4 linked regions of the Homo sapiens genome follow. The protein of the gene in region 1 interacts with the protein of each later gene in a pairwise test. Each region holds a gene or a part of one and is shown in the gene's direction. Other genes may lie near its edges. The genes, in order: SLC12A4, ZNF655, MTNR1B and ATF7IP.

Evidence for each region.
Region 2: the proteins of SLC12A4 (region 1) and ZNF655 interact in binary tests that used the Homo sapiens proteins (3 or more experiments, as listed by UniProt).
Region 3: the proteins of SLC12A4 (region 1) and MTNR1B interact in a two-hybrid assay, tested with the Homo sapiens proteins (one large-scale study listed by BioGRID and IntAct).
Region 4: the proteins of SLC12A4 (region 1) and ATF7IP interact in a two-hybrid assay, tested with the Homo sapiens proteins (one large-scale study listed by IntAct).

What each region holds. Positions count from the first base shown.
Region 1 is NC_000016.10:67,944,602-67,948,168, reverse strand, and holds part of SLC12A4 (solute carrier family 12 member 4), read left to right. Parts: intron 1-9; coding exon 10-108; intron 109-380; coding exon 381-500; intron 501-733; coding exon 734-838; intron 839-1,063; coding exon 1,064-1,232; intron 1,233-1,535; coding exon 1,536-1,731; intron 1,732-1,828; coding exon 1,829-1,998; intron 1,999-2,086; coding exon 2,087-2,218; intron 2,219-2,297; coding exon 2,298-2,405; intron 2,406-2,615; coding exon 2,616-2,800; intron 2,801-2,948; coding exon 2,949-3,082; intron 3,083-3,237; coding exon 3,238-3,329; 3' UTR 3,330-3,567. UniProt on the Homo sapiens protein: Mediates electroneutral potassium-chloride cotransport when activated by cell swelling. May contribute to cell volume homeostasis in single cells. May be involved in the regulation of basolateral Cl(-) exit in NaCl absorbing epithelia.
Region 2 is NC_000007.14:99,568,639-99,572,205, forward strand, and holds part of ZNF655 (zinc finger protein 655), read left to right. Parts: intron 1-3,049; coding exon of another isoform or gene 3,050-3,154; intron 3,155-3,567. UniProt on the Homo sapiens protein: Probable transcription factor.
Region 3 is NC_000011.10:92,968,448-92,972,494, forward strand, and holds the start of MTNR1B (melatonin receptor type 1B), read left to right. Parts: upstream 1-1,203; 5' UTR 1,204-1,278; coding exon 1,279-1,501; intron 1,502-4,047.
Region 4 is NC_000012.12:14,421,123-14,424,689, forward strand, and holds part of ATF7IP (activating transcription factor 7-interacting protein 1), read left to right. Parts: intron 1-2,786; coding exon of another isoform or gene 2,787-2,793; coding exon 2,794-3,567. UniProt on the Homo sapiens protein: Recruiter that couples transcriptional factors to general transcription apparatus and thereby modulates transcription regulation and chromatin formation. Can both act as an activator or a repressor depending on the context.

The sequences.
Region 1 (3,567 bases):
GTGCCGCAGGTTCTTTCTGATGTGCTACCTGTTCGTGAACCTCGCCTGTGCGGTGCAGACACTCCTGAGGACCCCCAACTGGCGGCCCCGGTTCAAGTACTATCACTGGTGAGCCATGCCTCTGACACGGGAGACCCTGGGGAGGCCAGGAGCCTCATTCTGGGTGAGGCTTGGGTTTCCTGGGTAGGGAGCTCTTGAAACACTGTGGGGAGGGAGATTATAGGGCTGCGGGGGACTGGACCTAGGTCTTACACCCAGTGACCTGACCACCCACCTGGGACCTCCCACCCGGGACCTGACAGGGCTACCAGGGCATGGGCCAGGCTGTGGCCAGGGGTCCTCCTGGTCCTGCCCTGACTCTGCCCTCCCCTCTCGTCCAGGGCGCTGTCCTTCCTGGGCATGAGTCTCTGCCTGGCCCTTATGTTTGTCTCCTCCTGGTACTATGCCCTGGTGGCCATGCTCATCGCCGGCATGATCTACAAATACATCGAGTACCAAGGGTGAGTGAGCACTGCCACCTGGCCTCTGCCAGCTGAGGGGGCCCGGCCGAGCAGGCAGGGTGGTCTGGCATTGGGGTGGGCAGGGAGCTGGGCCACCGTGGGTGCCAGGACTGGGGACTGTAACTCAGGACCCCTGGGTGGTCTTGAGGGGCAGAACCCCTCCACCTCGCATCCACATAGACAGAACCCCCTGGGCGGCACCAGGGGCTCACCAGCTGTGGTGGAATCTGCAGGGCTGAGAAGGAGTGGGGTGACGGGATCCGAGGCCTGTCCCTGAGCGCTGCCCGCTACGCGCTGTTGCGGCTGGAGGAGGGGCCTCCTCACACCAAGAACTGGCGGTGAGTTCCCGCCAGACCCTGGCCAGGGCGCAGAGGTTCTTAGGGGTCGCTGTCGGGGTCAGAGGGTCGAGAGGTGCCGGCTCCCCATCCTGGGGCTGCCCGGGGCACCCTCCTGGGCCATGCTACCCAAACCTGCAGGGACCACGACCCGAGAAGGGAAGAAGAGGAGGGGCTCCCTAGAACGGCCGGCCCTGGTCTCAGGCTCCCCCCACCCGGCCACTGCAGGCCGCAGCTGCTGGTGCTGCTGAAGCTGGACGAGGACCTCCACGTGAAGTACCCGCGGCTCCTCACCTTCGCCTCCCAGCTCAAGGCTGGCAAGGGCCTGACCATTGTTGGTTCTGTCATCCAGGGGAGCTTCTTGGAGAGCTATGGCGAGGCTCAGGCCGCCGAGCAGGTACTTGCTTTGGGGAGGGAGAGCTGAGCCAGACTACAGGGGTCTGGACTGCAGCTGGCACGGAGGGGAGGGCCCAGTCTTGGCCAGGGTGGCCAGCCAGGCAGCCAGCACTGCTGCCACCTGAGAGCTGGCACAAGGGGGAGCCAGCAGTCCCATCTTGAAAACTTGGCCTCTGGGTAGGCAGCTTGTTGCCCCCAGGCCCTCCTCCACCCAAAAGTCGTTTTGTTCCCGAGGGGCCTTGGGAGGGAGCCCAGAGGCAGGAAGCTGATGGCCTCCCATTGGCCCTGGGTGTGTTCCCCACAGACCATCAAGAACATGATGGAAATTGAGAAGGTGAAGGGCTTCTGCCAGGTGGTGGTGGCCAGCAAGGTGCGGGAGGGGCTGGCCCACCTCATCCAGTCCTGTGGCCTGGGAGGCATGCGGCATAACTCCGTGGTGCTGGGCTGGCCCTACGGCTGGCGACAGAGCGAGGACCCCCGTGCCTGGAAGACCTTCATTGGTGTGTGAAGGCCTGGGGCCTGGTGGGCAGGGGTGAAGTGAGGTGGCAGTGGGCGGAGGGCCACAGACTGGTGGTCAGCCGTGCTCCTCCTCCCCAGACACCGTGCGCTGCACTACGGCTGCCCACCTGGCCCTGCTCGTGCCCAAGAACATCGCCTTCTACCCCAGCAACCACGAGCGCTACCTGGAGGGCCACATAGACGTGTGGTGGATCGTGCACGATGGTGGCATGCTCATGCTTCTGCCCTTCCTGCTGCGCCAGCATAAGGTAGACCAGGGGGTGGGTGCAGATGAGAGGGGCTAGGCCCTTGGAGGAGCAGCTGTGACCAAACCGCCCACCTGGTCCCTTGCCTCAGGTCTGGAGGAAGTGCCGGATGCGCATCTTCACAGTGGCCCAGATGGATGACAACAGCATCCAGATGAAGAAGGACCTGGCTGTCTTTCTGTACCATCTGCGCCTTGAGGCCGAGGTGGAGGTGGTGGAGATGGTGAGCCCTCTGCCCTGCCCTGGCCCCGTGGATACCATGTCCCGTGCAGCTGGGTCCTCACGGCCAACCCTGTCCCCAGCATAACAGTGACATCTCTGCATACACCTACGAGCGGACGCTGATGATGGAGCAGCGGTCGCAGATGCTGCGGCAGATGAGACTGACCAAGACTGAGCGGGAGCGAGAAGTCAGTGCCCTTTGTGGTTCACGCCAGGGCGGGTGGCAGGGTCAGGCCTTTGGAGACCGCATCGGTGGGTGCGGAGGAATCAGAATGACTCACCGCAGCCCTACCCAAGCTAGTGCTCATTTCCCGGAGGCAAGGTGGTCACATTGGGCCAGACAGGCCCCATCCCCCTTTTCCTATGGGACCAAGGCTATCTCCTGCAATTGTCCTCAGGCCCAGCTGGTCAAGGATCGGCACTCGGCCCTGCGGCTGGAGAGCCTGTACTCGGACGAGGAAGATGAGTCTGCAGTGGGGGCTGACAAGATCCAGATGACGTGGACCAGGGACAAGTACATGACTGAGACCTGGGACCCCAGCCATGCCCCTGACAATTTCCGGGAGCTGGTGCACATTAAGCCGTGAGTGCAGCAAAAACAGCCCCAGCGGCACTGGAATCTAGGGGTGGAGGTGGGGTGGGGCAGACAAGTAGTGTTAGATGGGCCAGGGGTGGGGACCCTCCTTGCAGGATGGCTCATGGCGACCTGTGACTGGCTACACTACGTGTAGGGACCAATCCAATGTGCGGCGCATGCACACTGCTGTGAAGCTCAATGAAGTCATTGTCACGCGCTCCCACGACGCCCGCCTGGTTCTCCTAAACATGCCTGGCCCACCCAGGAACAGTGAGGGCGACGAGAACTGTATCCCTTTGTGGAGAGGCAGGCAGTTGGGAGGTGGATAGCATGGGAGGTCAAGCCAGCGGCTTCTCTCCTGGGCACCCCTGGGTGGGCATGGCCCAGGTGGCCCGGGTTGCCCGTTGATTCTGTTGTTGCCTCCTTGACTTGAGGCCCTGCAGACATGGAGTTCCTCGAGGTGCTGACCGAGGGCCTTGAGCGGGTGCTGTTGGTGCGCGGTGGTGGCCGTGAAGTCATCACCATCTACTCCTGAGCCCAGTGTCATCTTGTGGCCTGGAGTCGAGGTCTTGGCCAGGACATAACAAGCTGTGGTCTGGGGTAACAGCCTCTTCCCAGCACCCACCTGCCAGCCCTGCTTGCCTGGCCCTGTCCTGGACCCAGCTTTGCTAGGTCTCCTTGGAAACCAGGCCTGGGCCTCAAAATGGAGATGGATCCCAGGTCTTGTGGGACCCTGGGATGTTTGGGGACTTTACTATCTAGCACCCCAGTAG
Region 2 (3,567 bases), on another chromosome or scaffold:
GTAGAGATGGAGTCTCACTATGTTCCCCAAGCAGGTCTCAAATTCCTGAGCTCATGAGATCCTCCTGCCTTGACCTCTCAAAGTGCTGGGATTACACGTGTGAGCCACCATGCCTGGTCCATAGATCCTCTTGATTCGTTTGTTGGTTGATTGACTGACTGACTGACTGACAGGATCTCACTCTCACCCAGGCTGGAGTACAGTGGTGTGATCTTGGCTCTCTGCAGCCTCGGCCTTCTGAGCTCAAGCGATCATTCTGCCTCTGCCTCCCAAGTAGCTGGGACTACAGGCGTGTGCCACCATGCCTGGCTAATTTTTGTATTTTTTGTAGAGGTGGGATCTCACTATGTTGCCCAGGCTGGTCTCAGACTCTTGGGCTGAAGTGATCTGTCCGTCATGGCCTCCCAAAGTGCTGGGATTACAGGTGTGAGCTTCTGTGCCCAGCCATAGATCCCTTTTAATTAACACTTCTGCGACTCCAATTATTTAGGATCCTGGTTCACCGTATGTTATTCTAATCACTTTTTCTCTGTTGTTTGTATTTACCTTTTACTTCACTGTCAATATTTTATAAATCATATTAGAAAACTCAAGATTTAAATAAAATCAAAAAGTTTTAATACATTAATTTTAAACAGGAAAAATGTAAATAAAGCAAGTGCATATTTTGAAAGCAAAGTTTTGAGTTAAATTTAGGAAATAGGCATTTAGGCTAGTGCCAAGAAAACTTACACGTTCTTTCTGTGTGTAATTTGGAGGAAGGGATGGATTTTGTTCACAGTCATTATTTATTTTTTTTCAGGGCTTGTTAGGAGGCAAAATCATAATTTTTTTTTTACTAGCAGATTGTTTAAAGGCTAGGTTCTGAAATAAGACTGTGCAGGTTTGAAAACTAAGCATTACCAGTTATTGTAACCTTGGGCAAGCTACTTAACCACTCTGAATCTTAGTATTCCCATCTGTAAAATGGCTATAATAATAGTTTCTACGTTTTAAATTTATGGTATTAAATGAGTGAAAACCTAGAGAGCTCTTGGCATGGTACTTTGCACCTACCAAGTACTTAGTAAAACTTAATAATATTTTGATGGTACTGATGATACCCTGTTCTCTCTTCTAAACTGTGATATTGTATCTTTACCTGCTAGGCATTTTCTCTTTTAAAAAAAATTATTTCAGTAGTTTTGGGGGCGTACAAGTGGTTTTTTGTTACATGGATGAATTCTAATACATAGTGGTGAATTCTGAGATTTTAGTGCACCTGTCACTGGAATAGTGTACATTGTACCTAATATATAGTTTTTTATCCCTTGTCCCTTCTCCCACCCTTTCCCTTCTTAGTCTCTGAAGTCCATTTTATCACTCTGTATGCCTTTGCGTACTCATCTGCTGGGCATTTTCTCTTATACCTTCGTACATTACATTAAACACACATCTAAAATCAAACCCCTCATCCCACATGAAGACCACCTTTTTTGTTGTGCATATGTGTTTTAAGTGTAGATATGGAGTAAGCAGCCAGAATTTATTTCAGTTACCAAATATCGACAGACACTTTAAATATCTCAGAGTTAAAAGTTGCAAATTATGTTATTGGAATTCTGAGAACAATATTGATTGCTGCTTCATGTTACACTAACTTTACTTTTTAAACTTCTGAAACGATTTCATTTGACAGGGTGGACCTTAATTAAATATATGTCCACAAGGAGAGTTGACTCTAAATGTCCCACAGGATTTCAGAAACACAGTAAATACCTTTCTTCTATCTATTCTGATCTCCTTGCTCATAGGCTCTCACATGGAATCTTTGGGGCAGCTGTCAGTTCTTCATATTTTCCAGCCCCAATGCCCTTTTTATAAAATTGGGTAGCTGTTAATACATTGATACTTGGGCGCACAGAGTTGGCACTCAATAAGTAGCCGTTAAGTAAATTAATCAAAAGAATTGCAAGATACAAGATACCTGGTCCCTTCTATCAAAGAGTTTATAAATCAAGTATGAATGACAATACCTGAAACCACTTAAAAAAAAATCTATGTAAACACCGTTATATGTGACATGTCAGGATAAGAGGGAACAACTAATAAATTTTGTACACATTCAGTAAATGGAGAGAAAGGTTTTTGGAGATGAGGGGCTTGAGCCAGACCTTGTATGTGTGCTATTAGAAGCTTTCTGGGCTGGACACATTTAAAAACTGCCCTTTGATACTAATAGTATTAAAATTCTGTCTCCTTGGAAGCAGACTGCCTGTTGCTTTAGCTTTAAAAGAGATTTATATCCAAGCATTGCATTATGCAAGCCATAGAAAGACTGTTTTATGTGAAGATGCACTGATTGCACTTCCCTCTCTATATTTTATTGTAGTTAGTTGTTTAGAGCTGTCTCTGTGTAGAGTGTGAGGTCCTTGAGGGAAGGGACCTTCTTGGCCTCTTATCCCCTGCATACTTTGCATAGAGGAGGCACTTCATAAATGTTTGTTGAATAAATGCTACACTCCTAATGGGTAAGAATGTGTCATATTACTCTTTGTTTTCTTATGTGTACTGAAACAAATTGTTTCTTGAGATTGGTCCTTAGAATATTTATTCAGTTTTCACTGATTCTCTTGCTACAGGTTAGCTAACCATGCAGCAGGTGCTTGAGTTTCACCTTTCTCCAGTCCAGCAGAATTACATTTTGATGACCTCCATTTTGATACTTGTAGACCAGATCTAATCCGAAGATTAATCTTTAGGTAACAGATGGAGAGTGATAATGATAACTTCTGTGAAGACAAACCCATGCACACATTCTGTTGTCTGAATAATATTTAAATGAATCCTTCTGCTCCCAAGTCATCAACTTGCCCCTTAACACACATCCCTCTAGAGCACAAATCTGAGCTCCTTGTAGATCTTTGCCCTCTTCACTCTCCAGACCTTCCTAATTAATGTCTTCTCAGAATCGACCTTCTGTCTCTCTTAATCATTAGTTAAAAGAAAAAGTGGCAGATGTAGGACCTGGGGATACATTGCCACATCCCATTTCCTTCTCTATGAGCAGGATTTCCAATTTCCAAGCCTGATGGGATCTCCCAGCTGGAACAGGATCTACAGGTCTTTGATCTGGAAACTAAGACTAGAGAAGTCTTAAGAGATGACTGCTCAGGTGAGTAAGGCAGAATCAGATAGAATTAGTAGGGAAGTAAAGTTCAATTGTTGAGCCAAGTTGTAGCTGCTTTGGCACTCAGAATGAAGAGCTCTGTGTGTGTCCTAGCATGGAGAGTTCCTTCCTTTTCCCTTCAGTTAGGTTGACCCTTTCCATTTGTTTAGTATCCGTGCACATGTCGTACTAGACCCCAATCAAGTTGCTTATCTAAAATTCTTTCAGCTGTTTCCCTATTATTTCCTTACTCTGCTGAACATGTCCGCTGTTTTACCTCACTGCTCCTGTTTATGCCCTTAACTTCTGCTGTTGAGATTTTGTGCCTGTTTTTCAGAGTAAATAAACTTTTCTTGTCCTTGTAGATACTACATTGTTTAGTTTTCTCATCTGAGTTTTCTTTTCCTAAGCACAGGGTA
Region 3 (4,047 bases), on another chromosome or scaffold:
TCTTTATTGCTGAGTAGTATTCCATTGCAAGGTCATACCATAATTTGCTTATCCATTCTTCTGTTGGTGGAAATTGCAGGTGTTACCAGATTTGAGCTCCTATAAACAAGGCTGCTCTGGACATTCTTGTACAGGTCTTTTGGTGGAAATATACTTTCCTTTTCATTTGGAACTTCTGGTCATAGAATAGGTGTATATTTAACTTTATTAGGAGCTAACAGACAGCTCTTCAAAGTGGCTATACCATTTTGCATTCTCATAAAAGCAGTGTATGAGGGTTCTGGTTGCTTAACTTCCTCCACAAATATAGGATAATCAGTCATTTTGATTTTAGTGATTCTAATGGGTGTGAAAAGTGCTTTGGGGTCATAAGATTAGCCCCCATTAGAAGTTATCTATTATTATTATCACCAGATCACGACTCAAACATTTTTAATAAAGGGCACCTGAGTTCCTTCTTTATTGTAATCATGCCTCAATCTTCTTCTTGTCCTAACCCCTCCAAAAACCACATCATAACCCCCAATATTGGCCATACATCTATTTAAGTATTATGTGTAAATATATGTTGGTAAATATGTTAAAGTATTGGCTTTATAAAGAGGACCCAGTAGAGACATCATCAATGCCCCCCACAATACCCAGCGAGTGCTTGGAAAATGGCTAGGTTCGTATTTTTCTGCAGCTCCCTAGAATATAACAGTCTACCCTACTTTGTTCTGGGCTCTGTCCCCACATCTTAGGAGTTGCATTCTCTTTCGGGCTGCACAGCCCTATGGGACGTCAAACCTTGCCTTTCTTGACAACTGATGGGAGGTCCCTACCATCAGCACCTTCTCCAGTCTATCAACCTGGGTTGGACGTCCCTACCTAGACACAGCTTCTCTTGGGGACGCTGTGGAGGAAATCGGGGTCTCGGGTGTGGCTATATACTCAGGGACAGAAGCTAGACGCGCTCCGCAGCCTGAGGTGGGCCAGGCACCTGCTGGGCTCGGGGTGGCAGAGACAGCTGTGCGGTCCCAGCTGTTCCTGAGCGCACCGCTGAGGGACGCACTCCCTTCTACAACGGCTGCACCCCAAGTCCTCCTCCCATTCCTATATTTTTCTCCATCCCCTGCCCACGCTTAATTAGTTATCTCCTCCAGACCCCTCCCCACTGGCCTCCTCCCTTGCACACGCGAGCTGGGCAGGGAAGAGAGCGCCCGGCTCAGTACTGCGCGCGCCCTGCGGCTGTCCGGGGCCGCGCGGTGGCCAAAGCACAGCGCGGGAGAGTCTGCGATGTCAGAGAACGGCTCCTTCGCCAACTGCTGCGAGGCGGGCGGGTGGGCAGTGCGCCCGGGCTGGTCGGGGGCTGGCAGCGCGCGGCCCTCCAGGACCCCTCGACCTCCCTGGGTGGCTCCAGCGCTGTCCGCGGTGCTCATCGTCACCACCGCCGTGGACGTCGTGGGCAACCTCCTGGTGATCCTCTCCGTGCTCAGGAACCGCAAGCTCCGGAACGCAGGTGAGCACCATTCCTGATGCTGGGTGCTGGCATCGGGCCCTTCCTTGTCTTCTGATCTTGTCCCTGACCCCGGGATATGCGCTGCCTTTTCCCTCCTCAGCCCGGGCTCCCCTTTCCCTTCACTCTAACCTATTCCTTAAGTTTGACTCTGCACTCAAAAGTTAGGGTGAGTTTTGCCCCTCCGAAGTGCGGCTGCCCAGGACGCGCTTGGCACAGAGGGAATTGCGGAAAGTTTTACTGGCGCGCTTTTTGGCCGGGCGCCGGCGCTGTGGGAACCCACGCTGCTGGATGCCATCGCTACCCCGTCGCGCTCCAATGCGTGTCTTTCCAGAGGTGCCCACATCAGGCCACAGAAATCTCACCACCTGTACTTGACATCCCACTTCCTTCCTTGCCAAGCACTGTAGCTTTATGTAGTAGTCGCTTAGAAAATCCTTGCTGAAAAAATGAGTTAATCAATGGAAGCATTTCAGTAGGTTTTGTGTCAAAAACTTATCTCCAGGTCATCTGAAGACCCAATTCCAGTTGACGGAGAGTAAATGCAGAAATTGCAGATTCTGCTTGGACTGAACTAAATTGCTTTGAAATATTGTGGTCTTTTCCGAAGACTGGGAATTCCTGGGATTAACTGTGAAAATTAAAGCAATGATTTGGCTAAATCGTGTTGTAATCCTGAAAATATTTTTCCTATTTCAATCCACTCTCATTTCAATATTCCCCTAGTCAGGTCTTCAAAGAAACAAAACCAGAGTGGGGGGCAGTATCTGAACTCTAGCCCTCACAGGTCATGGGGCATGATGACCACTTCAGCTTAGGAAGGAGCTCAGTCACCTGTTTGTTAATTTTGCAGTTTCTTCAAGTTGGGCCTTGGGAGCAAATTCAAATATTAGAGTGAATTAAAATGGAAAGATAGCAGCAGTAAAACAACCATATAGCTTAAAAATGCTTTTCTAAGGAGTCAGACCATTTTTAGCAAATAGTAATATGTATTTGGTGTGGCCTGTGACTCTAGAAATTTTTTTTTTTTGAGATGGAGTCTCTCACTCTGTCACCCAGGCTGGAGTGCAGTGGCATGGTCTAGGCTCACTGCAACCTCTGCCTCCCAGGTTCAAGGGATTCTCTTGCCTCAGCCTCCCGAGTAGCTGGGATTACAGGCGCTCGCCACTACACCCAGGTAATTTTTTATATTTTTGGTAGACACAGTATTTCACCATGTTGGCCAGGCTGGTCTCGAACTCCTGACCTCAAGTGATCCACCCGCCTCGGCCTCCCAAAGTGCTGGAATTACAGGCATGAGCCACTGCGCCCGGCCAACTCTAGGATTTTTAGCTAAAAAAACAAACAAGAAACTCCTCCAACTGTGAGTATCCAGCCATCATATGGGAAACATAACATTATTAAGAAGAAGTAAACTTTCTAACTCACTTCAGTAGTGGTGGCTGTTTTCTGGAATACATTGTTCAAAATATTGTGTCCTTTGAAGAAAAGCTTATATATTAGGGAAAAACAGGTTATGATTAGAAAACTGCATTTAATATTTTTGACACATTGTCCCTTGCAGCCATCATAAACATTCATTTCCAGCACAGGGAAGCAAAAGGGAGACAACTCCTGGCTCTATGGGGGAGAAATGGGTCCTCCTGGTTCTGACATTGGCCCCTTCTGTCCCTGACTTATTGAGTATTTAGAGCAGGTCTGTCAGGCCATGGCTCCCTGCTCAGTAATTTGGATTGCCCACCATGAGAAAGGTGGTTGAGGGAAGTAGGAGTTGCTTCCTTTTGCTGGAAGGAGAAAAGCACCCCTCCCCTCCTGCATCCTACAGAGGGCTGGCCTTTTCTGTGATCCTGGCAGGGTCTGCAGAAACCTAACCAGTTTAAGAGCATCACTGGGGAGGGTCATGAGCATGTTAAATTGCTGGCATATCCTCTGTTCTATCTTTCCTACCTCCTGATGTGTCCGCTACAGCCCAGCACCCGAACAAAAAAAAATAATAATAACACTATATCTAAATGACATCAATTCCTGCCACTGCTGCAGTCTTGCAATTTAACCAGTTCTTATGTGACCTCTGGCTTTATTGGTGACAGTCACAAACAATTGTAGTACTGACTTGAACTAAATGATCTCAGCAGAGTGAGATTTCAAAAGGCGCTTAAAACCTACAGCTCTTTGAATAGTTAGCACACATTCTACTCTTAATCAGGCCTTGTCTTACTGAAGAGTTTGGATTTAATTTAAGAAACGCTTCTTCAGACCTTTCTGTACTTAAGTCTGGCTCCTTAAATCATTGGTATTAAAAAATTAAGTCTGTAACAATGAGAATACATATATTTCCAATAACCAAGATACATAGCCCATATTGAGGTCACAGCATGTTTCCCAGGAGACACCAGTATCCTTTACTTGCCTATCACAAACCCAGTTCCTCTATGGAGCAGATCTGTATCATTCCTAACAGTGCCGCTCCTGATGGCAGGGTGAGTGGTTAGATTAATTGTCTTTTTTTTTTCAGGGATATCCTATCTGTAGTGTCTGTTGCTGCATGT
Region 4 (3,567 bases), on another chromosome or scaffold:
ATTTCAATATCAGACATGATATCTCTAGTTTTCTTGGTAGATAACCTTTATCAGATTTGAGTAAGTTTCCTTGTATTCTTAGTTTCTGGCAAGTTGTAATTATGCATCAGTCTTGAATTTTGTCAAATGAATATTCTGTATTTGTTGAGGTAATCCTTTGTTGATTTTGTCCCTCTGTTCTGTTTATGTGGTGAATTAAATAGCTTGATTTGTTTTGTGGTTTTCTTTTTTGCTTAACAGAAGTTTATCGTCTCAGAGTTCTGGAGGCAACACATTTGAAATCACGGTGTTGTCATTGCCATTCTCCCTCTGAGGGTGCTGAGGGAAGGATCTGTTCCAGGCCTCTCTCCTAGCTTCTGGTAGTTGCTTGGCTTGTGGTACCATAACTTCAATTGTCACATGGCATTCTCCCAGTGTGCATGTCTGTCTGTGTCCAGATTTTCCCCTTTTTATAAGGACACCAATTGTATTGGATTAGGGCTCACTTTAGTACCCTTATATTACCTTGATTACCACTGTAAAGGCCCTATCCGAATAAGGTCACATTCTGAGGTACTGGGGCTTAAGACTAATATCTTTCTGGGGATGTGGGGTGTGGGATGCTGCACAATTCAGTCAGTAACATCCTGGTACCAGACATTCAGTTTAGGCAAAACTCGTAATTGTACACTCTGCTGGGCATGAAATAAAGTCAGAATGCATCATGGCTTGTTCATGGTCAACACTGCTTGATTTTTGAATGTGAAATCAGCCTTGTATTTTTCTAAGCGAGCTTCACTTGGTCAGAATTCATTACCTTTTTAAGAAACCTACTTCTAAATAAGTCATAGATGAAAGAAGAAATCATGATGGAAATTAGAAAATATTTTAACAGAATAATGTAAATGACACATTAAAATGTGAGATGCAACTAAAGCAGCTCTTAGAGGGAAATTTATAGCTTTATATGCACACATTACAAAAGAAGAAAGATTGAAAATAACACTTAAGCTTGAATCTCAAGGAAAAGGATGACATGTTAAGCTCTTTCCAAGAAAAAGTAAGTGAAAAGAGATAATAAATATTAGAGTAAATAATTAAAACAAGAAAGCAGATATAAAACCAAGAAATATCAGCCAAGTAAAGGTTCATACTTTAATAAGTGAATAGAATTGATAAAACTGTAGCACAACTTACCAAAAAAAGAGAATACACACACACACACACACACACACACACACACACACACACACACAACCTTTGTATTTATTTTGAAATTTTTTTGTAGTGGCATTACTGAGATAAAACCACATATCTACTATTCACCCACTTAAAGTACAATTCAGTTATTTTTAGTATATTCACAGAGCTGTATAATCATCACCATAATCAATGTTAGAACATTTTCATAACCCTGTAAAGAAATCCTGTACCCTTTAGCAGCTACTCCTCATTTTCTCCAGAATCTTCCAACCCTAGGTAGTCACTGATTTACTTTCTGTCTCTAGATTTGCCTACTCTGGACATTTCATATAAATTGAATCATTCAGTATGTGGCCTTTTGTGACTGGCTTCTCTCACTCAGCATATTTTTAAGGTTTATGCATGTAGTAGCATGTTCAGTACTTCATTCCCCTTTGTGGTTGAATGATATTCTGTTGTAGGGGTATGGCACATTTTATTTATCCATTCATCAGTTATGGAACATTTAGGTTGTTTCCAGTTTTGGGCCATTATGAGTAGTGCCTCTATAGAGCATTTGTGTACAAGTTTTTGTGTGGACATATGTTTTCATTTCTCTTGGGAAATGAATGGAATGGAATCACTGGGTCATATGACAACTCTGTACTTCACATATTGTGGAACTGCCTGTTTTCCAAAGCAGCTGCACCTATTTGCAATCCCACTATCATTGTATGAAAGTTCCAGTTTTTTCACATCCTTGCCAACACTCATTATTCTCGTTGATTGTAGCCGTCCTGTCGTGTGTGCAGTGTTATTTCATTGTGGTTTTGACTTGCGTTTCCCTGATGTCTCATGATGTTTATTGCTTATGGACTTTTGGCTTAGGGGTCTCTTTCTGGAAATGTCTGTTCAAGTCCTTTGACCATTTTTAAATTGGGTGATTTATTATTGAATTATAGCAGTTCTTAGATATTCTAGATATAAAAGTCTGTATTCTATATAAATATATATTCTGTATTCTAGATATGAAATTCTAGATTCGAGATAAAAGTCTTATCAGGCATATGATTTGCAAATATTTTCTCCCATTGTTGTGAATTTTCTTTCTTGATGGTAATCTTTTGTTAATATGTTTATAGTTCTGCCAATCTAAGTATGCTTGGTTGCAAATGTAATCTTTCCTTACATGTTTCTTAATTCTTCCTCCTTTTTCCTTTATCTCTATACCTGTTATTTCCCTACTGTTGTTCTTACACTTTTATTTTTCTTTCTCATTTTCTTCAGGTACTTTTTTTTTTTTTTTTTTTTTTTTACTTTATCTACCTTTTTTTTGCTTAAACATCTCCATACTCTGTGAATTCCATATTGGAAAAAAAAACTTGTCCCTTTTCCCCCTAATACTTTCTAGTTGATTTTCTAGTAGACTATGGCCATTTTTGATTTTGTATTACACAGATGCAGTAAATATGATAATTAGTATACAACAAGCAGTAGGTTTTCTATGTCTTAAACATTACATGAAATGTGCTGCTTGCATCTCTTCTAAGATCAATTTGTATTAAGTCTACAATTAGGTGGCTTCTGTTTCAGTTATTAAACTCTCTTTCTCTTTTTTCTTAAAGATTCAGAATGGACAGTTTAGAAGAACCTCAGAAAAAAGTCTTTAAGGCTCGAAAAACGATGAGAGTGAGTGATCGTCAGCAACTTGAAGCAGTGTACAAGGTCAAAGAAGAACTGTTGAAAACTGATGTCAAGCTGTTAAATGGCAACCATGAAAATGGAGATTTGGACCCAACCTCACCTTTGGAAAACATGGATTACATTAAAGACAAGGAAGAGGTGAATGGCATTGAAGAGATTTGTTTTGATCCTGAAGGAAGTAAAGCAGAATGGAAGGAAACACCCTGTATCCTAAGTGTTAATGTAAAAAACAAGCAGGATGATGATTTAAATTGTGAACCTTTGTCTCCCCATAATATAACTCCAGAACCAGTCTCTAAACTGCCTGCTGAACCAGTTTCTGGTGATCCAGCCCCTGGTGATCTGGATGCCGGAGATCCAGCCTCCGGAGTACTGGCCTCTGGTGATTCCACCTCTGGTGATCCCACCTCTAGCGAGCCCTCCTCTAGTGATGCTGCCTCTGGTGATGCAACCTCTGGTGATGCCCCTTCTGGTGATGTGTCCCCTGGTGATGCCACCTCTGGTGATGCCACTGCTGATGATCTCTCCTCTGGTGATCCCACCTCTAGTGATCCCATCCCAGGTGAACCGGTCCCTGTTGAACCCATTTCTGGTGATTGTGCCGCTGATGATATAGCCTCTAGTGAAATAACTTCTGTTGATCTGGCTTCTGGAGCACCAGCTTCCACTGATCCAGCCTCTGATGATCTGGCCTCTGGTGAT